Linked DNA regions of Homo sapiens: region 2 is linked to region 1. A link means that fine-mapping ties the variant in region 1 to the expression of a gene that starts in the linked region. Tissue or cell type: whole blood. Region 1 holds a variant in brackets; the other region holds the start of a gene. All regions are shown on one strand. Distances are from middle to middle.

Region 1 (4,245 bases):
CTTGGCCTCTGCTACCCCAAGATCCAATTACTCCTACTGCATTTAGGTTTCCCAATTCAGTGACTGCAGTTCCCACTACGAGGTCTGGCCTATGGAGAGTAGAGCCATCAGAGAACTCTTCAAAGATGCCAGAACTTACTTCACAGATTTATTTCTTCCAGTATTGCTGAAAGATATGTCTTCTGGGCTTCTCAGTGTGAGAATGTCTTAAATGACTAATTCACTCTAACATTCTAATATCCCTATGCCTTTGGATCTCTTCCTCTACATTAAACCAAGGCATTTTTGGTATTTCCAATTCACTTATGGTGAACCACCTTTTGATTAATGTTTTAGTCAAACAATCAAATTAATTGTTAGAGCTCATTCTAACTCCTTGAGTTGAGCTGCAACATTAAATGCAGAAACTCTGCTTAGTGAGCCCATGTCAATAAATTCAGCTTGATCCAATTTTATGTTCCTTCCATTATCACCCTATACTCTTAGTATCCATTCCCACACATGTCCCCTGGATTTCTGTGTGTATGAATTAGAAAACTCAAGTAGCTCATTTGGAGTGTAGTGCACCTCCTCATGGGTCATACTTTCTACCTCACCCTTAGGGGCCTGCTGGGACTTGAGTCTAGTTGTAGGTCTAGAAGAAAATAAGGGTGTTGAGGGTGGGTCCTGAGAATCAGTATTGTTTCACTGGGCCACTGTCTCAGGGAAGGCAATTACTATTTTCTCAGGCAATTCAGGGTTAATACCACTGGGGGTGAGGATGCCACTGTATTGAGCATGGGGAGGCTGCTGCTTCTGGAGTTGAGGGGACCACTTCTGTGGGGGCTAGGAAGACCTCTTCTACTTGTAAAGAATGCTATAAGAATGAGGGACTCAATGTCCCCAGCTTCATCAGGGTCTTGCCACACAGCCACATCCCAATGTATAGGATCCCATGCTTTTTCATTTAATGCCCTCACTTCAATACAACATACCATGCAAAGCTGGGAATTCAACTTGCAGTGTACTCGGCCAGTCACAGGATGAGGTTCTGCCTTCGATTTTCAGCAATTTCAGCCGTACAGCTACAGGAGGTAAGAGTCTCCTTCAGGTCAAACATAGAAGCTCTTGAGACAGTTATGTAGTGCTTAAGCTGAGATTTCATATCCCTGAGCTCATCCTTTTCTTTCACTACTCTGTCTAGAAACATAGGAACAACCAACTAACATCATTATTTTCCTTAGTTTTCCAAAAATGATTGAAAGTATCATATACATAGTCACTTAGCTCCTTGCTTCCTTGTAAGTGGTGGACTAGGAGTACCCAGTGGAGAAATTTTGCATATCTCCATAAACAGTTCATGTCATACACTATCAATGCTTTATTTACTACTGGAAGTAGTCATTAGCATCTTTAAATCTAATCAGATTAGAGAGTCAATTCTGGGAACTCCAGAAGGAATTCTGAAAACTCATCCTTAAAATTCTATTCCTCTAGAAGCACTCTCACTACCAAAATCTCTATTAGTCGGGGTTCTCCAGAGAATCAGAACCAGTAGCATATATATATATATATATATATATATATATGAGATATATACACACATATATATATCTCACATATATGATATACGATGTATATATGTGTATATATATGATGTGTGTGTATATGATGTATATATATGATGTATGTAAAAGGTTTATTATAAGGAATTGGCTCATTATAGAGGCTGAGAACTGCTTGCTGTCTGTAAGCTGGAGTTCCAGAGATGCCAGTGGTTTAATTCAGTCTGAGTCCAAAGGCCTGAGAGTCAGAGGAGCCAATGGTGTAAATACCAGTCTCAGGCAAGAGAAGATGAGACGACATGTTCCAGTTCAAGTGGTGAGGCAGGGAAAAAGGGGCAAATTCCTCCTTCATCTGCCTTTTGCTCTATTCATGGCTTCAATGGATTAGGTGATGCCCACACACACTGTGAAGGACAATCAATTTACTGAATCTACAGGTTCAAATGCTAATCTCTTCTGGAAACACTCTCACAGGCACACCTCAAAATAGTGTTTAATCTGGGTACCCTGTGGCCAGTCAAGTTGACACACAAAATTAACCATCAAAACCTTCCCAACTACAACGAACTTCATAAAGGAAGGCCTCAATACCTACCAAATGCTGCTTGTTGGGGA[T/C]GATGGAAATGATTAACAATTGCACATGCCATCAGCAGTCATTTAACCTTAAAATTTAACCTTAAAAAGAAAAAGGAGAAGCACTAAGCAGAAAAAGTAGGAGGAAAGGGTCTGAAAGTTCTGAGTCTGTCAAGAAAATGACTTCAGGAATAAGAATAATAAGGAAAGTCATTATCAGCACACTTTACTTTCACAACATCATCAGGGTTATCTCAAACTGTACTTGTCAAAAACGATCTAATACCACAGTTTAAATACACTTTTCTAAATAGAAACTAAATGACCAGAACGAGCAACGTATTTGATCTTTGTTTAGCTTCTCTCTTACCTATTCTGGTTGGCTATACTTATGATACAATGTCATTGGCACACACTTGGATTACTCTACATGGGCCGAGACCTCCACTATCCTTTGTCCTACAATTATGTAGAGGTATAGATTACATGTCTCAGGCAGTGAAACATAATCCCTAGATGAGACCAGGACAGAGCCATCCACAAAAAGACAATGGCATATTCTACTTGAGGGAGAGCTGGGATAATCTGAAATGTCTTCCCCTTTACCTTTAGTTGAAAACTACATTTTTCCTTTCAAATATGTTGAAACCACGTTCTGGAGTGAGCAGCCTGAGGTTATAGATGATGAGGGCTTTAGACCTGAACCTAGATATTATAACTCCCGAGCTTGTTCTCCATCCAGCCTACTTTCTGTGAATTTCAGTCTTATAATACATTTGTGTAACCAGCATCCACAATATTCACATTTCCTAAATGGCAACAAAAGTGACTAGCAAGGATTGTTGTGGAGGCCTAAAACAATGTTGAGAACATTGGTATTTAATGTGTTGTTCATTTATGCAAGAGACTTTAAAGGTAACTTCATACCATGCTTCTCAACATTTTTCACAAAATTTTTATAATCTTTCACTTTGCCCCACCCAATTTCTCTGACTTCTGGAGTAGTCAAGACAGGTTTTGGTTAGATCTACTTGAGTCCGCAAGGCAAGTTTCAAAATGGGGGAGGTGCTTTAATTGGCTGGTTCAAACCAGTTCTTTTGGCAACCTCAGTCAGCATATGGCCCCAGGTTCCCTTGTCTCTCCCAAAACTCAGCAGTTATCATGTTCACAGAGCAGAAATTACATGATTAGATGGTCTTTCTATTGGTGCAAGGATAAAGAATAATATCACCAAAACCACTAAACAATAGCAGAATTATTTTTTAGAGCCCATGGAACATTCACTAAGACAGACCATATCCTGGACCGTAAACCAAATAAAACTCAACAAATTAAAATAATCAAAATGATACAGTGTGTGTTCCCTGATTATGATGAAATAAAATTAGAAATTAATACCAGAATAACAGAAAAACCAACAAGCATTTGAAATTAAACACCGTACTTCTTAATGGGTCAATGAAGACGTTTCAAGATAAATTTTAAAATACATTAAACTGTATGAAAATATGAATACAACATTTGAAATCTGTGGGCACAATTAATGCCATGCTGAGAAGGAAATTTATAGCATAAGTGTTTATATTAGAATAGGAAAAAAGTCAAAAATAAATAATCTGAGCTCCAATCTTAAGAATCAGAAAAAGGACAAAATAAACCTAAAACAAGCAGGAAAAAAGAAATAATAAAGAGCAGATGTCAATAAAGTGCAAAACAGAAAACCAGAGAAAAATCAATAAAACAAAAAGCTGGTTCTTTGAAAATTTTGATGAAATTGAAAACCTCTTGTGAGACTGACAAAGAAAAAAATGATGCAAATTACAAATATCAGTAGTGAAACAGAGATTTTACTACCATCCCCAAAGACTTAAAAATAAAATCTAAAAAATCATTATAACTCTTCATACACAAATGTGGTAATAATTTAGAGACAATGAATTCCTTAAAAAGCATAAACTACCAAAACTCACCCAATATAAAATAGATAATTTGAATAGACCTATAATTGTTAAATTTGTAGTTTAAAAATTCTCAAAAAAAATACTCTATGCTCAGATGCTACCAAACATTTAAAGAAAATTTAACATCAATTATACATAATCTCTTCCAAAAAACAGAAGAGGAAGGA
Region 2 (4,245 bases), 32 kb after region 1:
GTAGGGACTTAGTAAAAGCCCTAGAAAAAAAAAACAAGAAAATAGTCCTCTCAAGGTGGGGAATATTGAATACACTTCTCTCACATTGCTCCCTCAACTTTCTTCCCAAAGGGGAAGTAGGGCTCAGAGAGATGAGACAAACATGCCCCACCCCAAATAGTGAAGAGGTCTCCGAAGCATCCTACACCATCTGTTAACGTTCCTGTTTATAAGAGCGAACGATATGGACACACACCCTTTAGGGAGGTTATTCACCACCCACCTGCTTTGCAAGCGTTTAAGAACTCACACAGGGGCGTTACTTACGAAAAGAACGCTTGTTATGTGACTAAACCAACAACCATCACAGAAACCCTTTCCATCCACTGCCCCCCCAAATCTCAACATTTCATCTTCCTGTTTCCCTTCCTACGTTACAAGTGCCAAGGTAACAATGTTTTGAACTAACGTCATACCCCCACTTCCGACAAAGTTTTTTCAGCTGCTACACCACGTGCGTTCCCACAGTCCGGGAAGAGGGAAGCGTGTAGCCATTGGTGGACACTGAATGGCTGTTTGCAGCCGTGGGCACAGAGAGGGGGAGGAAGACGTGGGACTAAGACCCAAGTTTCCCGGAGACGATTGCAACATCTCTTTGCTGGCATGTGGCCAACAGGAGCATGGCGTCTTTCCCATGCCCATGTGGGAAGGGCGTCAGGGACAGACACCTGACCCTTCCTGGCAAGAAGCTTTTCTATCTTTCCCTCCCCGTCTCCTTCTAGCGCCCTCCTCTTCCCCAAAGGAAATGCTCTCCTTTCCCAGATCCCAAGCAAGGACCCCAAAGCGCCAGGCCCACGTGTCGGTCCTTCCCCTACATCCATCCCTACCCAAGGTCCCCTCTCCCAGACTGCCTCTCCTTTCTTCTCCAAACGCAGGCATTTTCCACCACGCGAATCCGCAACAGTGCCCGTCTGGGAGACAGAAGTTAAGACCTAAACTTTCTGGCCCGGAACCAGAAGGGAGATGCACACGGCCGCCAGGAGCGCAGGGCGCAGCGCGCTCACCTGGGAGCGCCGGCAAGGGAGGCGGCCAGCGCTGGGGACCCGGAGACCCCTGGGGACCCGGAGATCCCTGGGGACCCTGTGCTGTCAGCGTCTCCAGCCCGGGTGGGAGATGTAGCGCGAGCTGCCCACACGTGCTCCGCGGCCGGCTGGGCCCGCCCCACTACGGCAGCCCCTGCCCTCCCTGGCCTGACTCACCGAGAACTTTTTTCTCCGCGTCTTCGCTGCCGGCGGCGGTGGCTAAAGAGGCGGCGGCCGCGGTGCCCGTGGCTGCGGGGGCCGCGTCCCCACCGGGGTTTCCTGCGACGTGGGCGGCGGGCGCCGGGGCCGCGGCCTGGGGCGCACCGCTGCCCACCGGGCTCTTGGGCGCGGGGTCCTGGGGAGCCGCGGCGGCCGCCTCCGTCGGAGCCTGCGGGAGGGTGGTGGTGGTGGTGGTGGTGGCCTCGCCCGCCTCACTCATGCCTCCTCCTCCTCTGCTCTCGCTCAGGCGCCTCGGTGGCGGTTGGTCGGCGGTTAGCGCGGCTGGTGGTCGCGGCGGCCGGGGCTCGCTCTCGGGGAGGCCGGGGCGGATCTCGCGGCGCAGGCGGCGGCGGCCGAGGTGGGGTCGCGCGGCGGAGGCGGCTCGAGCTTCGTGCTGCGCGCTCTCTCTTGGGCTCCTCGCTCGATCTTACTGCCCCAAAAATGGCCCCGCACAAGTTTTTCTAGGCGGCGCACCGGCCCGGGAGGGAAGGGCGGGCGAGGGGAGAGGGTGGGGAAACTTGGCTCGGGAGTCGGGCCCTGGACTCTCATTAGCATTTAAAGGCGCCCGGTGCGCTTTCTATGGCTCCAATCCGCCGGGACGCGAGCGCGCGGGTCGCGTTGCAGAACCAAGGAAAGCCAGGGTGAACGGGGCGCCCGGGTTGTCTTCTGGAGCGTTCCGAGGAGCCCGCGCTGCTGACCCTTTGTTGGAGCGGGGTGCATTGGCTCTCCTCCCTCAACCCGTCTTGACACCCGCAGCTGACAAGGAGAGGTAAAATAGGGCACCCAAACTACTCTGCGCTTTACCCTCTCAAACACTTGTTTTTAAATCCTTTGCATCTAGTCAGTCATTCAACATGTATCAAGCACCAGCAGCTATTCGTAGCACAGCTGTTAAGACCTGGAATAATAAAACCTTAAGACTATTTGGCAACTTACTCCTGAAAGGTAATATACGGATAATTTCATCTGTAACACGCAGATGAGGAAATTGACCTCACAGATTTAATGTAAATTCAGAGTTTACACCAATTTAACCGCAACAAATAAGGAGCTGTCAATATATATTTAATAAGGAACACACACAAAAAAAGCTGAATAAATCCACTTCCTACCTTCTGCTCCAGTTGCCTCTGCCAGCTGGTGAAAGCTTAAGGAACTGAGCCCTCTTAGCCTCGAGGATGAGAGGTATAGAGAAACAGATCACCCAATAAACATTATTCCCAAGTTGAAGAGCCCACATGCCCTTTGAGAATGGGCTGGATGGTAGTAAACACAGGGCCAGAGGGTCTGGGATCTGTACCCAAAGACTGTCTGGAATACAGGACTATTTGGCCCCTAGGGTTCAGACAGACTAGGTATAAATTCTGGCTTTGTTTTTTATTAACCAGGTTAACTTGGGACAGAGATTCAATGTCCCAGAGTCGGTTTCCTGCTTTATGAGAGGTTCTCAAAGGTGACATGAAAAGTAGATGAGATTATCATGTGTCACTCCAGTGTCCGGTCCACCTAAAGCTCCTTTGTTTTGTTTGTTTTTTAAGTTATTGCCTGTTCCCTCAAACAATTTACCAAATTTTTTTCCAGGAATATGTCTGTAATGTCGATGTCTACCTTAACATCAGTAGGGTAACTATCAAGTGTAATTCATCTTTGTATCTCCACTGGTTAGTACAGTACGTAGCACAGAGTTTGGACATAGTGAATGTTTACAAAATGAAAACAGACCAAATTCTTCCAAACTCAATTACTTATCTGCACATTTGCTATCAATTATTATGAAACTTTCCTGAATTCTTACTTTCTTATTTCATCCACAAAAAACACAAAGAAAATAAGTTATTTGAAAAAATAGCAAATTATGTAATTTTGAGCTTTTCTATGTAATTCATCAATATTTAAAAAATTACAAACTCTTAAATGTTAGATTCATATTTTAGTTTGACTTCAGTATGGAGCATACAGTGATGTTATATAAATGTAGATGCTTTTAAAATGCTGGTCTAATTCTAAGAATGATTAAATTATTTCTTCATGTGAAAGATTATGGTCTTAATTACAATTAAATTATAAACATGATTTATTCTGGTGAGGACTGACCATTGACTTTCTTATTCAGCAAAATGATTATCATTGCTATTTACCTTTCAGAATTACATTACAAGAAAAAAAAGTAAGGAGATTGAACTCTTCAAACCGATCCAACAGTAAAGCCTTTTAAAAAAATTCATCCTTGGAAGTAATTCATAACTAACAGGTGTGATCTCCAACCTCTGGAAGACCCTAAAATAATTACAGATGCACCCTGGGATTTCCTAGAATTTGTGCTGGACTGGCTTCCAAAACTACTCATCATTGTCATCCAAACAAAGCAGTGAGCAGCTGGAAGTTGTTGGTATTGTACTAAATAAATCTAAAGAAAATTAGAACAAATATGATCTATGTTTTAATAATCATAAGTAGGAAGCAACTTGGATACAGATACACATAAATTTATCCATTCCTTCATTCACTAATTCATACACTCATATTTGCTAAGCAAATGCTATGTCCCGGACAAAGTACACCATTGTGAGTATCCAATGTTGACCAAAATGGAGCCGGTTGTAAGGTCTTTTGATATGATGTTAAAATTATTTTTCACTATCAACATTTCTATTGTAAGACAATATCATCATTTACTAAGTTTAAGAGTAAGTCAACAAAGAATTATAATCTAATTGCTGACAGCAGTCATTTTTAAGCAATTATTGGTTTGATCATAAAAACAAATGCCACTCTGTTCCTAGTATGGAGGAAGTTAAAGCTCTCACAACTGTTGGAAGGGCTGAAGGAGGGAAACTCAGAGAAGCTCCACTGAAGATCTCAGCCTCCAGTCCCCAAGACAGTGGTTCTCAGGAGTTCTCCTGAAGCCACTGGAGCCACAAGATCTTTCGGAAGTTCTCAGCAATTCAGGGCTGGATTCAGGTTT

The links. PIP is the estimated chance that this variant, and not a neighbour inherited with it, causes the effect. A credible set is the group of variants that fine-mapping cannot tell apart.
Region 2: YBX3 starts here. The variant in region 1 is the best candidate, but not a certain one, in a credible set for the expression of YBX3 in whole blood (INTERVAL, PIP 0.56).

Annotation. Positions count from the first base shown.
Region 1 is chr12:10,689,314-10,693,558 of GRCh38, forward strand. No RefSeq gene overlaps it. Among named protein-coding and RNA genes, the nearest start is that of STYK1, 17 kb to the left of the region's middle. The variant T/C (reference allele first, on the strand shown) is at 2,160.
Region 2 is chr12:10,721,612-10,725,856 of GRCh38, forward strand. It overlaps YBX3 (Y-box binding protein 3), which reads right to left and starts at 1,712. Exons shown (of 10, transcript NM_003651.5): 1 at 1,239-1,712. The coding sequence starts at 1,500. LOC124902876 reads left to right here and starts at 1,441. Exons shown (of 2, transcript XM_047429946.1): 1 at 1,441-2,049; 2 at 3,426-3,707. The coding sequence starts at 1,499. The coding sequence ends at 3,495. RefSeq lists silencers at 958-1,357, 1,488-1,587, 1,608-1,827.